Regions from separate parts of the Homo sapiens genome. Here region 1 is linked to region 2. The links come from fine-mapping of genetic effects on gene expression. A gene starts in region 2. The other region holds a variant in brackets. All regions are shown on one strand. Distances are between the middles of the regions. Region 1 has its middle 40 kb from the start of FZD10-AS1. Region 2 holds the start of FZD10-AS1 (FZD10 antisense RNA 1).

The links.
Region 1: its variant is fine-mapped to the expression of FZD10-AS1 in tibial artery (GTEx, PIP above 0.99). The same link has a PIP of 0.9 or more in atrial appendage and subcutaneous fat.

The regions. Positions count from the first base shown.
Region 1 is chr12:130,116,144-130,126,258 of GRCh38, reverse strand. No RefSeq gene overlaps it. Among named protein-coding and RNA genes, the nearest start is that of FZD10-AS1, 40 kb to the left of the region's middle. The variant C/A (reference allele first, on the strand shown) is at 4,904.
Region 2 is chr12:130,157,112-130,167,226 of GRCh38, reverse strand. FZD10-AS1 (FZD10 antisense RNA 1) reads left to right here and starts at 5,549. Exons shown (of 4, transcript NR_033834.1): 1 at 5,549-6,570. FZD10 (frizzled class receptor 10) reads right to left here and starts at 4,763. Exons shown (of 1, transcript NM_007197.4): 1 at 1,487-4,763. The coding sequence starts at 4,284. The coding sequence ends at 2,539. RefSeq lists enhancers at 1,937-2,482, 2,568-3,563, 5,150-5,716, 5,717-6,283.

The DNA.
Region 1 (10,115 bases), 41 kb after region 2:
CAGGAGGAGTCATCCGAGGTGCAGGGGATGGCCCGGAGGCGGGTGGGTGCAGCCCAGCCTCACCCCTGTGTGCGTGTGTGTGTGCTAAGGGCAGGCTGGGCTCGCCACACCGCCCTTCCTCCAGATAGGCCCTGCTGGTCACCAGCCACACATGACCCAGCTGCTCAGTGACTCCACCTCCAGGCAGGCGCTAGGATGGGTCCCAATGCATCTGGCATAAAATCCACACCCTGTGCCATGGCCCCTGAGAACCCCTGGTCTGGCTTCTCACCTCCTGAGGATCTCCTCCTGGTCCCTTTCCCAGCCCCCGTGACTCCGGGCCCTCACAGACCCATCCTCTGTTCCTGGAGGACTCCAGCCCACTCTCCTCCACCCTGCAGCCTTGGCACGTGCTCTTCCCCATCCCCAAATGCACTTTCCCAGGGAGTCCCACAGCCATTCCCCGCCATCATTCAGATTGCTTGTCACAGGTCACCTCCTCAGGACGCCTCCGTGATCATTCTTTCTAACATTCCAGGCTCCACTATGTTTTCCTATTTATTTCATTCTTTTTCTTTTTGAGACAGGGTCTCACTTTGTCCCCCAGGCTGGAGTGCAATGGTGCCATCTTGGCTCACTGCAGCCTTGACCTCCCAGGTTCAAGCGATTTTCCTGCCTCAGCCCCCCAAGTAGCTGGAACCACAGGCACGCGCCAGCACGTCCAATTTTTTTGTACTTTTTAAAGAGACGGGTTTCGCCATGTCTGTCAGGCTGGTTTCCAACTCCTTTTTTTTTTTTTTTTTTTTTTTTGAGACAGTCTCGCTCTGTCGTCCAAGCTGGAGTGCAGTGGCACAATCTTGGCTCACTGAAACCTCTGCCTCCCGGGTTCAAGCAATTCTCCTGCCTCAGCCTCCTGAGTAGCTGGGCCTACAGGCGCACACCACAACACCTGGCTATTTTTTGTATTTTTAGTAGAGACAGGATTTCACCATGTTGGCCAGGCTGGTCTTGAACTCCTGACCTCCTGATCCACCTGCCTCGGCCTCCCAAAGTGCTGGTATTAAAGATGTGAGCCACTGCGCCTGGCCTGGTTTCCAACTCTTGAGCTGAAGCGATCCACCTGCCTTCCAAGGCGCTGGGATTAGAGGCATGAGTCACAGGCCCCAGCCCCTGTTTCATTCTTTAGAGTGATTATCACTATTTCCAAGGATCCTGTTTTTCTTAGGTCACTTGCCTCTTATGTCACTGCAGCGTAACGGCCTTGAGGACATCATTTGAGTGTCTTTTTTACTTGTTGCCAAGGAAAATGCTTGACAGAGAGTAGGTGTCCAACAGTAGCCACTGGGTGAGTCGGAACGGGTTGTGAAGGTGACCATCTTCATCCTTGGTGTGGGAGCCTCTGGCACCTGCGCCCTGGTGAAGTCCTCTCCCACACGGAGTCAGGAGATAAGAATGCACACCTTCCAAGTTTACACCATCCAGGTCGTTCTCTCCCACACGGAATCAGGAGGTGAGGATGCATGCTTTCCAAGACTACACACTCTAGGCCATCCTCTCCCAAACGGGGTCAGGAGGCAGGTGGGACCCTTTCCAGGCTAGGCATTGGCACGTCTCCAGGAGGTAAGGATGCATGCCTTCCATGACTACACCCCCCTGGCCGTCCTCTCCCACATGGAGTCAGGAGGTAAGAATGCACACCTTCCAAGTTTACACTATCCAGGCCATCCTCTCCCACATGGAGTCAAGAGGTGAGGATGCACGCCCTCCAAGGCTACACCATCCAGATCCTTCTCTCCCACACAGAGTCAGGAGGTGAGGATGAATGTCCTCCAAGGCTACACCATCCAGGCTGTCCTCTCCCACACAGGGTCAGGAGGTGAGGATGCATGTCCTCCAAGGCTATACCATATAGGCCCTGCGGCTCTGCCTGGTCTCCTGGAACACGTGCTTCCAGAGCTTTCAGCCACCACAGAAGAAATACTTCTACCTGAGGCCAGCATGCTGGCGAGGCCATGTGGATAGCCCATAGTCCTAGCTGAGCCCAGCCTTCCAGCCCTCCCTGCCAGGGTGTGAGTGAAGTCACATGGACCCTCCGGAACAGCCTCTTCTCAGAACCAGATACCTCCACATGGGCCCTGTCCAGGCCAAGGAGAAAAGAAGAGTCACCCAGCCCAGCCCTGCTGAATTCCAGACCCATGGAATTGCAAGAAAACCATGTTTTTAAGCTGCTAAATTTTGTATTTGTTAAAGAGCAATAGAAAATCTGAAATCTGAACATTAGGTTATTTATATAACAATGCACCATAAACTGGGTGGTTTATTAATAGCCCATATATATGTATACACACACACACACACACACACACACATTTTTTTTCTTTATCTAGAACAAGCTTGTCCAACCTGTGGCCCATGGCCTGCATGTGGCCCAGGACAGCTTTGAATGCAGCCCAACACAAATTTGTAAACTTTCTGAAAACATTATGAGAAATTTTTGTGATTTTTTTTTTTTTTTTTTTAGCTCATCAGCTATCGTTAGTGTTTGTGTATTTTATGTGTGGCCCAAGACACTCAGTGTGGCCCAGGGAAGCCAAAATTTTGGACATTCCTGCTCTAGAAGTTTCTTCTTCTTCTTCTTCTTCTTTTTTTTTTTTTTTTTTTTTAAAAAAAACTCTAGTGGCCACAAGAAGAAAATAAATGCCTGCCATAAAACAAAAACTTAACAGTTCTAGGAACTTGGGCCTGGCAACCCAACTTTTCATTAAGTCTAAGATACCATTGATTCCATTATTGTTGCCATCTAAGACTAAACCATGACACAGCACCCCAGCTTTAGAGGGTGTTAAATACGAAGAAGGTGTCTTAGAATTAGTGAACAACAGTGAGTTCGCACATCCTAGTGCAAATGGAATCCGGCAATTATTCCCAGCAGAAACGCAGCCCCTGTCGGGAGCCCTGGAGACAGCCTGGCTTCCCTTGCACAGGCATTCACCGTTCAGCCTTGCCATGGCTCTCCAGCTGCTGTTGGACGTTGGGCAAATTGTTAACCTCCCTGAGCCTCAGTTTCCTCATCCAGCAGATGGGGTAACCGTGGAACACACGTCCCCGGGCTGTTGGGAGGATTAAGTGACATGATGCGTGCAAGGCACTTTGCACCATCTCTGGAACCAGCAAGCACTCAGGAAACGCTAGCGATGATGGTGATAATAACGATGGTGATGGCAATGGCTTTTTTTTTTTTTTCTGACATGCCTTCCTTGTCCATGCTGCAGTAACTATTCCATCCTGGCTGAGACTGGGCATGCTTTCTGCTTCGGGTCCTTTCTGCACAGTGGGCAGTTTATAACCTCAGCCAGCTCTGCAGAGGGCAGAATGCCATGGTCCAAATGTTTGTGTCCCTCACAAAATTCCTATGTTGAAATTCTCGCCTCCAAGCTAATGGTTCTAGGAGGTGGAGCCTCTGGGAGGTGATCAGTCATGAAGGTGGAGCCTCGTGGATGGGGTCAGTGCCCTTAGAAAAGAGGCCCAAGGGAGCCCCTTTGTCCCTCCCACCGTGTAACACACAGCAAGGTGCCTGCGTCTATGTGGGAAGGACCCTTGGCAGACACCAATCTGCCTTTATCTTGGATGTCCAGCCTCAGAACTGTGTGAAATAAGTTTCTCTTGCTTGTAAACCACCTGGTCTATGGTAGCTGGTTACAGCAACCTGAACAGGCTGAGACCCACAGATTTACAGCCTCCTCTTCCAGAGTCTGACTCCCTCCCCCTGGTTTTGTCTTTCCTGAAGCCTTCTGCGCCCCGTCCACACTTGCTTCCCCACCCCCCTTTCTCTGCCTTCAGTAGTTGTTTATAATTCAGTTTGAGACAGTAATTTAGAAATGACCTTCTCAAGACCTAGTTGGCATGGGATAAATTATTTTTCCCTAGGGCATTTTATTATTATTTTTGTTTTGTATTATCCTCTTATAATTCATTCACAAAAGCCTGACCTCTCAACAACTTTGTAAACTTCTCATTGACTCCAGGCTACTGACGACTCTTGCTTACCAAATGCAGGCGAAGCTGTTCAGAAGTACAGCGCATCGCTGGAAGATAAGGAATGGATCTTCTGTTGGCAGCATGGAACTGGACCTGGATGACATCAACATTTGCCAATAAATGTGAGTTGAAGCTTTTGTTAAAAAATGGAATATGGAGAGTTGAACCTTCATTCAATAATGATGACAGCATAATGAAGTAGACACTGTTATTTGTCCTGTTGTTCAGATACAGAGACTGAGACACGGGAGAATGAAATGGGGTACTAATGTCGTCCTAGCTACTGTGTAGGATGACACATGGGGTTGGGCTTGGTAGAGGGTATTATGATTATTAGCATGGTTTCCATTACTGCTGTGGTCATTGACGCTGTTGTACTCTGTTTTCCTCCTAGCATTTGGACACATTCTGTCTGCCTGGAGACATTCTGGAAGCACATGCAGGAGAGCCTTGTGTGCCATCTGGCTGCAGTTGGGAAAGGCGAACCTCCCCCGTTTTTGATACTCTTTTTGAACCTTCCCAGTCCACAGAACCCAGTTCCCACATTTTGGGTGGCCAGATTCTCCTCTTCTATGATGGGGAGGACTAAACGCCCTTCACCAACATCCCTCTCAAAAAGCATGGCCGGGAGACTTGCTTTCCTATATCCCTTTAAGAATTTGGGGCTTGATTTTCTCCACTCAGAGGAAGTTGTGATTTAGAAATTTCTGTCCCTCTGTGTCGAACACATAATTAAGATGATGGCCAAGAAATCTGGTCCAATTTTCCAAGTAAAAGCCTGGCCACCGAATGCCCAGCTGTTGATGAAGTTTCCATTTCAGACAGAACTCTAGCCTTGCAAACATTTGGCCCATAAAAGAGTGGATTTTCCCATGGTCAAATGAGT[C/A]ACTGGGAATATTGACTCGTCTTTTAAAAATCAGAGGTCACTTAAAAAAATTGAGTTGAAATGCATGTAACATAAAATGAACGACTTTAAAGCACACAGTTCAGTGGCACTTAATATCTTCACAAGGTTGTGTAAACACCTCTCTCGACTTCCTAACATTGTCATCGCCCCAAAGGAAAGCCTGAACCTGTGATCGGTCACTGCTCACTCCCCTCTCCCGAACACTCAGCTCCTCCCCCTGGCTCCTCTGCTTTCTGTCTCTGCAGATTTTGCCTCTTCTGGGCATTCCGTGGAGGTAAAATCACATGCTACGTGGCCTTTTGTATCCGGCGTCTCTTATCATGTTTTTGGGGTTCACCCATGTTGTAGCATGGATCAGCGCTTCCTCCCTTTCTGTGACTGGATGATATTCTGTTGTGTGGATGGACCACAGTTGTGTATCTATTCGTCCACTGATGGTCATCTGGGCTGTTTCCACGGAGATCGCTTTTAAGGAGAGATCAGAAACAGCTCTGGGCTCAGGGGCACTCTGTGAGCTTTTCTGTTACTCCCCCCAGTCCCCCAGGGGATCCAGTTCACACAGAGGTGTTGAGAGAGTCGGTCCCCACCGTCTCCACAGACCGCAGACCATGGAATCTGATGGTGGACATATGTGAGGCTCCAGAGAGGCGCCTGCAGTGCGGGAGGGCGTCGGTGGAGCCTGGCAGCCCACCCCACCCTCAGAACAGCTTTTGGCCTCAGGAGCAGCTGCAGAATTCAGGCCCCGCCCTGCAGTGACCAGCCTGTCCGGGCTCCGGGGTTCAGTCCAGGTCAGGCCCCACGGCCGCTGGTATTGGGCCGGGCTGCCAGGTCTGGAAGTGCTGGGGAGAAGGAGACTGCAGCCAGGCACCCGCAGGGCTGGGCTGTTACGGTGGGATCGTGAGAAGGGCCCTGAACAGGGATCTGAGCCCCCTGTTTAGCTGCATTCCTTAAAAGTGGTTGTGAGTAGACGGGGTCTCTAGGTTGAGGTGTGAGCTCCCGTCCCCTCCGTGATGCCTCACAGGGCTTGTTGTGCGCGAGGGAATGGTGTCCTCCGGCCCAGCACACGGGCAGCATCCAAGGCACTGGGTCAGGCGACCAAGGAGCTACCTGCACTTTCGCCAGCCCAGACAGGGGACGGGACACCGGAGGTCTGCTGCCAGTGGGGCTTGCGTGTCCCCTCTGAGGCCAGACCTGGGGGTCTGCACGGTGCAGGGAGGGCGCAGCTGGAGAGGCCTGTGTGACCCCCGTAGAGTGTGTGGGTGTGGGTGTGTGTTTCACAGTGTGTGAAGATGCATGTGGGTGTGTGTGAGGATGTGTGTGTGTGCATGGGTGTGTGTGTAAATGAATGCCCCACTGTATGCATGCCTGTGAGCGTGTACGTGTGTAAATGTGGGAGTGAATACGAGTGTGGGATTGCGTGAGGGTGTGAGAGAGAGGATGTCTGTGTGTGTAAGGGGAACAATCTTAGCCTACACGGCAAGTCGGCCATAACCACAGCGACGCTCCCCACGTGTGGGGCTGCTGTGTGGATGGTGCTGGGCCTGGCGATGGGATGTAACTTGCACCCTGGCTTGGAGGGGTGTGTCACGGGGGGTGTGTCACGGGGTGTGTGTCACAGGGTGTGTGTCACGGGGGGTGTGTCACGGGGTGTGTGTCACGGGGTGTGTGTCACGGGGGATGTGTCACGGGGGGTGTGTGTCACGGGGTGTGTGTGTCACGGGGGGTGTGTCACGGTGGCTCCATGAGAGGCCTGAGAGCAGCAACCACAGCCAAGTGAGCAACCCTCAGCAGACAGCAGTGTCCCAGCAGTGAGCCGCTACTACACACCAGCCGTGTGCCCAGCTCTCCCCAGGGCCCCAGATCCAACACAAAGGAGAGGGAGCCGCGCTCATCTTCATGGAAGGGGATGAAGCCAAACCCGCCGTCGTCACTGAGGAGGGCTGCGTGGGAGGCGGTGCCGATGGGGTGGAGGTGAGGATGACATGAAGGGTGGCACCCTGCATTTTTGAGCTTTCTCTGTGCCAGGCACCAGGTTTCAATCGTGCCTCCTTAAACCTGCACCCAGCCCTGCAAGCTAGGTGGTATCACCATCCCACGTCACAGTTGAGGGGCAGAGGAGCCTTGGGGACAACTAGGAACTTGCCCTAACTGCCCTCTTGCGCCAAAGTGAAAAGCGGGGCTGGAAGGGAGCTCCAGAACTTGGAGCTCATATAATCTCTGGCAGAGCCACGCCAAAAAGTACAACCTTAGGGGCCCCATCTGCTGAGGCCAAGGATACCATCTCCTGCCCACATTGCTACACCCCAACCCCGGGTGCCCCCAAGCTAACTAGACTGCAAGTTGCCTCTCGTGACTTTTAAGGGAAAACGAGAGAAGGAGAGTTCATCCACAGCCATGATTCCTTTGATCCCCTCACCTCTCCTTAATTGCATCGGGAGTTCATGCCTTTGTGTGTTGGGGGCGATTACTCTAATTTCTTGCAGCCCAGCGAGAAGTAAGACATTGGTTTTTGCCAAAACTTGCTGTGTGAGCTGCCAGGGATGTCACATCCGGAAATTTTGTGATGAAGAAACTTTTGAAAAAAATTAAAAATCAAAGGGAAGTTTGGGGAAACAGGGCCAGGGGATTTTCGTCTAGTTTCGCCCCAGGAGCTGCTCTCACACCCGCCTGCCCTGTAATCTTCTTGATTCGTTCTGCTGGAGGCAGGCGGTCTAGGAAAAAGCTGAAGCAGGGGCAGAAAGGGAACGTGAGTGAGAAGCAGGTCTGCTGGGGGCCAAAGGAGGCGGGGAAGAGATTGGATGGGGGTTTCTTGGGGGATCCAAACCCTAATCTGGGTGTGGGCAGCTCTCAGGACAGAGTGCTTCCTGTCTGGAGTCCAGTTGCTGCACCTGGTCCCTGTGTTCATGCCGGACTCTCCCAGGGCAGGACCCTCCCAGCCTAGTGGCTGACTGGCATCGGGGGCAGGGCAGGAGAGGGACTCTGGCCGCGTGGGTCTCCTGTGGCTGCTGTAACAAATAACCACCAACTGGATGGCTTAAAACAACACAACTTGACCTGGTACAGTGGCTCACGCCTGTAATCCCAGCACTTGGGGAGGCTGAGGAAGGAGGATCATTTGAGCTCAGGAGTTCAAGTCCAGCCTGGACAACACAGCAAGACCCCGTCTCTACAAAAAATAAAAAAAGAAAAATTAGCCAGGCTTGGAGGTGCACACCTGTGGTCCCAGCTACTCGGGAGGCTGAGGAGGGAGGATAACTTGAGCCCAGGAGGTTGAGGTTGCCATGAGCCGTCATTGCACTATTGCCACCATTGTTGCACTTCAGCCTGGGCCACAGAGCGAGACCCTGCCTCTAGAAGCAAAAACAAAAAAGCAACCAACTTCATTTTCCTACAGCTCTGGAGGCCGGAAGTCTGCAATGAGTCTTTCAGGGCTGAAATCAGGGCTGGCTGCACTCCTTCCAAAGGCTCCCAGGAGAGTCTGTTTCCAGCCTTTTGCAGTTTCTGGAGCTGCCTGCATAACGCAGCTTTCGACCCCTTCCTGGGATCACTCTGGCCTCTTGCTTCCTCCTCTGACCTTCCTGCCTTCCTCCTCAAGGACTCCTGTGATTACATTATCCAGGATCATCTCCTCATCCCAGAGTCCTTAATCACAACAGCAAAGTCCCTTTTTCTATGTCAGGTGACATGTCCAGAGATTCCAGGGATTAGGATGTGGACATCCTTTGGGGGAAACTACAGGCTCAAAACCAAAAGGGAAACAGCCCACTCGAATGGGGTCTCTCCCCCGTGCTTCTTACAGTGAGAATCTGCCTCCCTTTCTGCTCACCCTAGATTTCAGAGCCAGCCTGGGGTGCTCAGGCCAGGAGTAGCACACGTACACAAGTGGCTCGAGCCTGACCCCCTCTTTGGGGCCCCTGGTGCTCGTGCCCCAGCCACAAGGCCGGTTCTCAGAGTGGAGCTGTCTTGGAGGCTCTCATTTGCTGTGAAGGAATAATCCTGGACAAATGCTTTTCATTAAGGAGCCCACGAGACACAATATCAACCTAGCAAGAGGATTAGGCTTTTGCAATGTAAACAACCTAACTATAGAGGAAAGAGACCCTGGCTTTCTATGAAGCTACCTGGAAAACAGCAAATTTCTTTAAAAAAAAACACACACACACACAACAACAACAACAACAACAACAAAAAACAAGCAAACAAACCCTACTAGGTTTCCAAAGTGAGGGGGCAGACAGGGCCCCACCTCCACAGCTCAGGTCTGGGAGCCCCTGCGCCATGCAGCCCCGCCCACCCTCTGCCCTGCTGGGTCTCAGAGATGCCAGAGGAGTTCCTGGGAATTCCCCTGGTACTCTGCCAGCCCAGCAGCCCTCCCACCACGCCCTCTCCCCTGAGGCAAACAGCACCCTAACCCTTCCAGAACATTCTTTGTAGTCACAGAGACAGGGCTGGCCTGGCTGGGTGGATTCAGAGCCCCCGCCTCCTCTGCAGCCTCTTCTCGTCCCCCACCCTCCCACCCAGCTTCACGTCCAGAGAAGGTTGTTCATCCCTCAATGAGGTTGCGCCTGCAGCCCCTGCAGGTGGGAGGAAGGGCCCGTCAAACTCCCAGACCCCCAGCTTCAGCCTCCTGGAAGCGCTTTCTAAAATGAGTCTCATAGTTCCTTATAAACCGCACGATTATCTCTAGGAAGTGGCACTGGAGCGGTGGCCTTCAAACAGAATTAAATCTTCGAGGTATAAGTAGCAAATCGCTCTCCTTCCAGCCCCGTTGGCTTCAGACCTTCCTGAGAGCACACCACTGCTTCTTTTGAAGAAACCCTGGTGTTCCAGGTTGGGCAAAGTCAAGTCAACTCTCACACTTTCTGAGTGCAGGAAAATAAAATACACTACAATTTTGAAATCTTATTTTGGCCCATATTTCATGTTCTTTTTATTTATTTACTTATTTATTATTATTATTTTTTGAGATGGAATCTTGCTCTGTCACCCAGGCTGGAGTGTAGTGACTCGATCTCAGGTCACCGCAACCTCCACCTCCCAGGTTCAAGCTATTCTCCTGCCTCAGCCTCCCGAGTAGCTGGGATTACAGGCATGCGCCACCACGCCTGGCTAATTTTTGTATTTTTAGCAGAGACAGAGTTTCAGCATGTAGGCCAGGCTGGTCTCGAACTCCTGGCCTGAAGTGATCCAC
Region 2 (10,115 bases):
CACATTCAGGGATAACTAACAACAAAGGCTCTTAGGTATGTTGTTGAATATGACTTTCCTTGGGACCACATTTTCGAGCCTACACACCTGAGCATGGGCAGGTCTGAAGCTGCTGTAGTCCAGGAATTTTAGAACCAAATGTCTTTGTGTTATATCTAGCCTTGTGGCTCACAGCAGCATCCGGACAATGTTACCCTTCTGGACTTTTTGAAAGTTCTATTCCAAATATGTTATTTTCATTTTCCCTAAGAGTGACAAAAAGGAAACGCTATACCCATACATGCACAGAGACATCAATATTTCTATGTAGTCTTTTGGGGGACTAGGCGAAAACAATCAACAAAGAAATTTTATTTGGGGGCATTTCTGAAGCTTTTCTGCCTTCTTTTTTAATGCACTGAAAGCTCTTTGGGATCTTGCATTCTTTTACTTTGCCTACCTAGCTGGTGTTTCCTCCGTTTGTCAAACTTGATCCCAAACCACCGATCTGCCTGCTCCTGTGCCCTGCAAATATTCACGGCCAAGTGCAGTAGCCCCTCAAAGCCAATGTAAGCCTGTTTCCAGCCCTAGTGTTGATGGGTGATCTTATGTTTACCAGGCTGAAGTTCTGAACACCCTCTTCAGAAAACAGACTGCACTAGCTCCAGGCTCTCCTCCTCGTTGGTAAGCGTGTCATCCATGCTCCAAGTTTTCCAGAGCTCCTTGTTTAACTTGGAGCTGGACAAAAGCATGGCCCCAGGGGCAGCTTGGCTTGCTTTATATTAATAGAGTCCTCACCACAGTAGGACTGCACTGTGCCCTTGCTTCCTTCTGGCTGGAACTTGAGTGTAGCTGTGCCTTTGACCAGCAGACCTGGGGCAGTTCTTTACAGCTACCCAGTTCTAACAGGAAACCCTGGAGAAGAACCAAGTACCATGAAGTTCCAAAGCTGCTTAACTTCCTCTTAAGGATTCGCCACCCTTAGCAGGTATTTTATCCCGTCCAGGTCTATAATCTGTTTTGTAAATGTCTTCATAGTTCAGAGTCACTGCAAAGCCAGCACACTTTGGGCTGATGTATACAGCTCTGTCTAGGTACCATTTGAGCCTAGCAGGTCAATTGAATACAGATGATTTAATTCTCCTAATCGGTTGGCTCTACTCTCTGAATATATTAAAACTGGCTAATCCAGGCTCATGAGTGGGTCCACGCTTAGTGGTGAGGCTCTCCTTGGTGATGTGTGTCTACAACTAAGCCCTCATGTCCAGCTACCAACAGTCACAGAAACGACTTCCAACTTCACACATTGCCTGACTGCAGTTCCTCAGAAACTCACAAGTGAATGATTCTTCCAATCTTGGAATCCTCTGATCTGCAATTTTATACAGATAACCAGTACTCTCTGGCTAGAAGCACAACCCCAGAATTTGCTTAAAAAGCAAAGGGAGAAAGTGTCCTGTAGTCTCTCCACACACAGAGAAGGGAAACCTCACCATGAACCAGGGACTAGCAGCAAACTAAAGAACATATTTTATTTTTAATAAAATAGTGGAGCATGAAAAATATCATATATTACAAATATACACACGCAGAAACCACTCTTTCCTGGCACTGTGAAGAGAATACACTAGACAAAGTGTCTCTGCCAACCTAGTGCTTCCTGATCTGTTTGTGGAAATCATTTGTTTAACAATAGAAAGAGTCAATAAGCCCTTTGGGTAACTTTTGAATGATCCTTCTCCCTCTTCCCCCCTCCTTTCCACAAATCAGTCCAAACGTCTATAACATTGGCTTGGTTTCCATTAAAAAGCCACAAAATGTAGCACTGAAGGGTTTCTGAGGGCTGGGCCTCTTAGTTCTTTTGTTAGGAGATTTCTTTTGTTGTCTTTATATATAGCAAAATACTTGTTTCTCTTTTTATTTTCAAGGAAAGAGAAAAAAATGTATTGCACATCGTTTGAGTTCACAAATGTGAGGTTTGATGGAGGTTTCTGTCTTGCAGAGAGACTATTGGTGAAGGCCGGAGTCTATTTTAAGCAACTCCAAATCCACTGGGGTGTGAGGCGGGCCCCGGGTCCTGTCTTTCCTCTGCAGGGATGCCGCCCAGCACTGTGGCCTTCCTGGGGGTGGGCCCTGGGGATGGCTCATTTGTTAACCCAGGGGAGGCTCTTGAATTTGCAAAGCAGTTATCTGTCCTCTTATTTGTAAATGGGTAGCAAAGCCAACTCAAATACACAGATGTATATTTAGGGAGGGCTCTAAACAAAAGTTTTCTTCTGAGGGCTGAATCAACTACTTTACCACAAATTAGTTACACAAGAGGCTACTTCACTGGAGGAGCTTCCCTTCGCTGGAAAACCAAAACAAAACAAAACCCTTTAAGTACATTTTTCCTTTCAGTGTATCACAGCATCCTGAATTTCAGGGTAAACACTTTTTTATGTATTTCTCTTTTGCTTTTATAAAAAAAAAAAAAGAAGAAGAAGAAAGAAAAACACAACCAAGAAAAGCACCACATCTTAGCTCCGGGCGCCCCTGTGCCCTTCCCTCCAGCCCTGTTCACACGCAGGTGGGCGACTGGGCAGGGATCTCATATTTCCCGTGGTGAGTTTTCTGGGGATGCTGGGCTTTTTTGTAAATCCCACCGCTGGTGATCACGCTGGCCGGTTTTCTCCGGCTCTTCTTCTTTAACCTACGGCTGCACACCTGCTGCCAGGACTGCAGAGTCTTGGAGGTCCAAATCCACATCCCGCTGGTGATCCCCACCACCAGCAGCATAAAGATCTTCACCATGAAGATCTCCACGGCGGGGATGGAGGCGGCCATCAGGCAGTCCAGCGTTTTAGTCTGGTTGTTCATTTTGCACTTGTGCTGCGCCGCCAGGATCTTCCAGTAATCCATGTTGAGGCGTTCGTAAAAGTAGCAGGCGATCACACAGGTGGCCGGCACGGTGTACAGCACAGAGAAGAGCCCGATACGCACCATGAGCTTCTCCAGCTTGTCCGTGTTCTCGCCGCCCGTCTTCATCACCCTCCGGATGTGGAACAGGGCCACGAAGCCCGAGAGGATGAAGGACGTGCCGATGACCAGGTAGCAGGCCAGGGGAATGAGCACGAAGCCGGTGAGCGCGTTGACGTCCATGCTGCCCACGTAGCAGACCCCGGTGAGCTCGTCCCCCGCCACCCTGCGCATGACCAGGATCAGGATGGTCTTCACCGCCGGGATGGCCCAGGCTGCCAGGTGGAAGTAGCTGCTGTTGGCTTCGATGGCCTCGTGGCCCCACTTCTTGCCGGCGGCCAGGAACCAGGTGAGCGTGAGGACCACCCACCACAGCGAGCTGGCCATGCCGAAGTAGTAGAGGACCAGGAAGACCAGCGTGCAGCCGGTGCTCTCCAGTCCCTCCTGGATGACATAGAGCTGGCCGCTGTCCCGGTCGCAGGCGATGCTCTCGGCGCCGGCGAAGAGGCGGATGAGGTAGCCCACGGAGTAGACGCAGTAGCACATGGAGAGGAAGATGATGGGGCGCTCGGGGTAGCGGAAGCGGGCCGGGTCGATGAGGAAGGTGAGCACGGTGAAGGCGCTGGAGAAGAAGCACAGCACCGCCCAGATGGCCAGCCAGACCACTGCGAAGCGCTTGTCCTCGCGGCTCCAGTACACGTCCACGCCGGGCGTGCAGAGCGGCGCGCACGACGCGCTCTTCTCCACGTGGTGGAACTTGCCCGGGTTGTCGCAGCCGCCGCGCCCGGGGCCCCCGTCCTTCAGCGGGTGCTCCTGCGCGCTGTGGGGCCGCTGCGGCCGGAACAGCGGCGGGAACAGGCCCGAGCCCCGGGTGGGCTCGTCCGAGCCGTTGTTGGGCGCCTCCATGCACAGGTAGTTGGGGTCGTTCTTGTTGGGGAGTTTCCGGCAGTCCAGGGAGTCGGGCCACTTGAAGTTGAACTGCTCCATAATCGGGGAGCACTTGAGCCGGGCCTGCTCGCACATGACCCGGCAGGCGGGGATGGGGGTAGAGACCTGCTCGGTGCACATCGGCGCGTACAGCGAGCACAGGAAGAAGCGGAGGTGGCCGTGGCAGCCGTACTCCACCAGCGGCGCGAACTCGTGCAACTGGATGGCTGCCTCGCGCTGGTTCTCGTGGCCCATCAGGTTGGGCATACGAGTCATGTTGTAGCCGATGTCCTTGCACATCGGGATCTCGATGGGCTGGCATTTGCCGTCGCCCGGGCGCTCCATGTCCATGGAGCTGATGGCGGCGCACGAGCCCATCACCTGCAGGACCAGCCACAGGCGGGGGCCCGGGCGCTGCATGCTGGCGTTGGACGTGTCCTCGCGGGGAGCTCCGCGCCCCTCAGCGCCGCCGCTCCCGGGCACGGGCTGCTGCTGGCCCCGGCTCTCCACCCCTGCTCGGGCCCCCGCCCATGCCCGCCCGGCCTGGCCCGAGCGCTGCGCACAGCGCCCCCGGCTCGGCTCTCCGCGCCCGGCGTCCGCCGAGTTGGGGGCCGCGGCGGAGAGCAGCAAAGTTTGCAAACAATACCGGGAAGCGAGGGAAGCCCCCGGAGCTCCCGGCGCAGCGGCCCGGCGCGAGCTCCAACTCACGGCCGCGGCAAACTTCGGCCTCTTCTTGGAGCGCCCAGGTGGCGCGTCTGGAGCGGGCTGGCGGCGCGGGCACACCGAGGCCGGCCCAGCTCGCGGCGCCCCCACAGCCCGGGCGGCTCCTCCCTCCCTGCGCCGGCCTCGGCCGGGACCAGCCGGCAGCTGTTTCGAGGTTTGCGTCCCGGGATGAGAAGACTCGCAAAAAGGCAAAGGGGGGCAGAAAAGCCGAGCGCTGACAGGCCCCGCCCCCGGGCCGCGCGCCCCGCCCCGCCGCTGCTTTGCATGAGAAAGCGCAGCGGCCCGGGGCAGCCTCCTCCCCGCCGCCCCGCCGCGGGCTCCCGGGCCCCGCGGGGGCCGATCCCCCCCGGCCTGCAGCCCAGCCTGCGGGGGGCGCAGCGCCTAGTCCCGCCCGCGTCGCCCGCCAGCCCCGGGACAGCCCGCCTGGCGCGCGGGGCTCTGCGCGCTGCGACCCTCCCCGGCAGTCCCGCCCGCCTCTCCTCGCCCTCTCTCTGCCTGGCCTCCAACTTTGCCTCTCGCTATCCTCTCCGCCGGCGCCCCCTTTCCCGGCGGTCCCCGGGATGGTCCCCGGCACCCCGAGGACGCCGAGGTTACGGGAAGTTCGGGGACTGGCGGGAGAAGGGGTTTGGGGGTGGTCCGCGGCGAGGGGCGCGGGGTGCATCTTCTCTTCCTTTTATGGTGAGTCCCGGGCGGAGGGCGCTTTCAAAGGGAGGTGGGATTTGCGTTTTATAGCCTGGGCCATAAAGTAGGCCCTTGCTTGTAAACCTGCCCGCATCTTCCTGAGGCTGGGGAGGTGCTACCAGCCCCGGGCTCCGGGCTCCGAGGAGGGATTTTCTTTGAAATTTCAAAGAGACGAGCTAAGGGGAGGGGGAGGGGCTCGAGAATCCGGATTTTAGGGCCGCTCATCCGAGGTCTCCTCTAAGAAGGCGGGAAGGGGGAGGGGCGGGAAGCGTCCCGGGACTTTGAACACCGCCTCCCACCCCGCGGGAAGTGCGGGCTTGGTTTGTACCGCGGTGACCCCCGCCCCCTCCGAAGCCGCAGAGCCGGGGCCTCGCGCCAGCAGGGCTGGAGATGCCTTCTTGGCGGCTGAGTTTATTTATTATAGGAAGTCATTCGCTCGTGGGGTATTTATGTGATTTGGCGAGTGATGTGCCCGGCCAGCGCCCTCCTTGGCTGCAGCCCCGCAGGAGGACCCGGAGTAGGGTGGGATGGAGTGGGTCGTGGGAGGAGCGCGTCAGCGCCTGCCCGGGGACCCCCAGCTCCCGCGAGGACACGGAGGCGCGCACGCCGCTCGGTTTTCCTGGAAAGTGGAGAAGGAGCGTCCTGGGCAGGTCCTCTGAGCTCATCCCCCCTCGGATTGGGGCGGGTCTGTGACGGGGTCACTTAGGACACGACGTCCCCCCGCCATTCCCTTCCCCCGCCCAGGGCGTTCGCGGTGGGCGCCCACCGCCAAGCCCCACTGTTCCCAAGGATGCGCCAGGTGCTTCCCGTAGCGTCCTGGGTTGACCCTTAAAAAAACAGCACCCCTAGGAGGTGGCCGGCCCTCTCCTCCCAGGGTCTCTCCGGGTCACGATCTTCCAAAGTTCGGAAACTCGCAGGATCGCGTGTGCAATCTCCCGCTACCTCCCGGGGGGCCGGGGAGAGGTCAGAGGAGCGAGTCCCGCGTCCACCGGCCTCGCTTGCCCCCTGCCCGTTTGAGGATAGTTCCAGGGAGCAGGGTGGAGTGTGCGGACATCTTTGGAGGCAGTGCTGGGGCTTCCCGCGTTGGCGGCGCTCCACCCGGCGTGGGGGGCGGCTGCACGGGCCCCCGCGGTGGGGACGCTGCGCACGGGGCAAGGTCTCCCTAGGAAGCGCCCGGGAAGGAGATGGGGCCCGCCAGGAACCCCCCTCACTGACCAGCTTTCTGCACGCCGTGCAGGAGGGGGCCACTTCCTCGGAGAGTATTGGCTTTTAATTAAAACAAGCCCTACAATTTTTACATCGGTAAGAAACTTGGGGAAATCTCACCTTTCCACTCATTCATTCATCCGTTCAACAGACATTTGAGCGCCCAGAATCCCAGAATTAATAGGCAGGTTCAGGCACCCACCCCTGGGTCGCTGTCCCTGGGTGTCCTGGGTCTCACTAGGAGGTGCTGGAGGAAGTCGGGGTGAGGGAGAAAGTGAAAAAGAAGGTAGAAACTCCGGGCAGTTAGAACACCACCTTCAACTGTGTTATTTCCCAAGTGAAAAGTTGCATGATTTTATTTTTGAAAGACTGCCATTTTTATTATAGTGTTTTTTTTTTTGTTGTTGTTGTTTTTTGTCTAGTGAGTAATTTTTCAGGACCTTTAAATTAAAATTAATTCAGCGGAAATCACTTGGCTTTTCTAGAATTTTCCTGGCAAAGGTCCTTCCTGGGCCCTATTTTCCTTCTTTTCCTTTTTGTGTCTCTCCCTCAGCAACTATTAGAAATATTTAGTGCAAGAGTGAGAGCCAAACGCCGGGAGCTGGGTGTGAGCTATTTGAGAAAGTGCCTCCTAATTGATCTTTTCTGTGCTGTTTTAATTCAGCCACGTTCAGGCCCATTATTTTAGCTATAACCACTTCAGATTGCCTTTTTCTCTCGTTTTTTATAAAAATGTCTGCAGAAGTGCTTCGCCCTGTCCAGCTGAGATGGAAACCAACAAATAGACTTTATTATAGAGAAATGAGGGTTCTGAGAAATCAGCAACTGGAAGATAAGTCTGTAACTAATAAATGAAAAGGCTCTTTTGATGGCCCCAGCTGAAAAGATATTTTATTTTATTTTTTTTCCTGTGTGTGGGATTTGAGATGTGTGAGTCTAAGGAGCAGCCGGGGTCCCCCGCTGCTCAGCCCTGGCTGGCAACCGACCCCCCTCTGGCAAATGTTATGGAGAATTGGGAGGAATTTTATGGCTGTCTTTCCCTCAGCTCTTTTTTCTTTTGTCTTCTTTGAAGAATGACTTTAGACATTTTATTTACATATTTAACCATGGATGAAAGACGGAAAAGAAAGCTTTGGAGCCGTCGTGGGAATAGTGATATGTTTAAATTAATGGAAATCTTATTAGGCTTCTAAAATTTTGAGCAAAGATTTTTAATGAAACTTTATAATTAAACATGATTTCACATAACGTGCAGAGACAAGGAATATGTTTTTACCCCCAACCACCTAAAAATGTCTGTCTATCGGAAAGCTATCAGTAAACATTATCCGCCTTCAGGTTCTTGCAAACGTTCACCAGGGAAAGTATGAGGTTTTTGAGAGAGAATATTTCAGGAGTCAGGCAGTGTTTTGAACAAGAACTAAATATTTTTTGGAGGTGGAGGGGAATTGAAAGAGAGGCCCAGTTTCATTCCATTTAAACTCACAAAGTCAAAAGTATAAAAGTACTTTGACACGGATATTGCTAAAAATCAAAGTTGTATCTTTTCTTATTATGTAATAGTCAATGGAAATTATAAGCACTGTGCGAGGTTTTCTGAAATGGGATTAGAGAAAACCCAAATAATCTCTTTAAGATAAAAAAGTACTGAGTCTTTCAGCAACAGAAAGAAATTAAACCATAAGCTTAGCATGTTACAAGCTAATTGCAAGAGTAAACTGGTGGCATAGGAAGAAAGCTCATAAACAGAAGTAAAATCGTGCTGGTGAATGTTGAGATAAAAAGTGGTTCAGGCTGTCGCAACGCCTTTCAGTAGCTGCTGCTTGAATCACCTCTCTTGGTACATTCAAGTGTGAGGATCCACGTAAGTGATTCTTGTGTTTCTTCTCTTGTCTTCTCGTGTCGTCAATGTTTGTATTTAGTCCGGGACATTTCCAATTCTACCTTCAAGTATGAGAATGAAAACTGATCTATTTACCAATAATTGCTTCACATGCAGGGAAGTCTGATGTGAATAGACCTTGTTTTCTCTGACCTCATCTAGTATCAAGTTTCTGCAGAAACTTATCAGATATAAAACATGCACAAAAAATTATGTTTTCTGATCAAGTAGGCATGCTCCCCGTGGCGTGCCCCCATCTTTTTCTCCAGGGAAAATACCTTTAGTGATCTGAAGTGATACTTAGCAAAGAAAACACAGTTTGTACCACCAGAAAGGCCATGCAAGTCGCAGCGAATTCAACAGGCGCAAAAGTTTTAATTCTGCCTAAAAACACTGGCTGTGAGATGTGGAGGTTTGGGGGAAGGTGAGAAATGAACCCCGAAGCACCCCCATCCTAAAGTGGATGAGTGGGGTGTCCAGTGTGGCTCCAGCACAATTTAGGCAGCTATTTTAAGGCCACTTCCCTTGAAATGTGGTTTGAAATATTACCAAAGGTTCCACGGGGTGCACTAGTGTGAATTGCAAATCAGAGCATTGATTTAATCCTCTTTCAAGGCCGGGCTTTGGATCGCTGGCGTCGACTGGCTCCCCACTGCTCCTGGCTCAGGAGGGACCATTCAAGGGGGCAGCTTCCCGCCTCTATTCCCACACTCCAAAAAACAACACCGCAGACAGACACCCTCCAACTAAATTAGATTAAACTCCTTCTCTTCCACAGCGTATTAGCCTTTTTGCTGCCCAAGCCTCCTTACGCAGCCCCTCCTCATTTAAAGACACAGATTTCTTTTTCATCTCTGCAACTGCAACAACAACAAACACAATCATATATATATATATAGTGTGTGTATATATGTGTGTGTGTGTGTATATATATGTGTGTGTATATATGTGTGTGTATATATGTGTGTGTATATATGTGTGTGTATGTGTGTGTATATGTGTGTGTATATATATGTGTGTGTATATATGTGTGTATATATGTGTGTATATATGTGTGTGTATATATGTGTGTGTATATGTGTGTGTATATATGTGTGTGTGTATGTGTGTGTGTATATATGTGTGTGTATATATATGTGTGTGTGTATATATGTGTGTGTGTGTGTGTGTATATATATATATATATTTTTTTTTTAAAGAGATAAAGCCAGCCTTCTAAGTGCTCTTACATGGCAAGGACGTTATCTGTTTAAAATCCAGGAGGGCGTCGCCTACCTGTTCTGAAACTCAACAAATTAACCCTTAACCTGGGGCAAACCTAGAGCCTATTCACAGTGCTTCAACCTGCAATTCTGTACTGGACTGTTTTTGGAGGAATATATGAGAAAAGAAACATCACAGAATTCCAGAAACACGACACAAAAGAGTGTGTGCGTGTGTTGTTTTGGTTGGTGTTTGTATTCCAAACAGCTTGAGCGGACAGCTTATCGGAAGCGCGTGCCCATTCTGTGAGTTCAGACTTCATACCTGGTCTTCATTGCTTTGCTCCTTGTCCCCTCCCTTAGCTGTTTGGGATGTGCTGATTTAATTACTCCCCTTCCCATCTGTTTTCTTTCGGCTTCCCTCCTGCACCCTGGGACCCTTTTGCCTGTTCTGGGAGCTGAGTGGGTCAGCTCATCACAGGCCTGCGGCCCCTGCATGGGTGACAGAGGAGGCAAAGATGACACAGAGAAACTATCCCTTCAGGGACAGAGTGGGG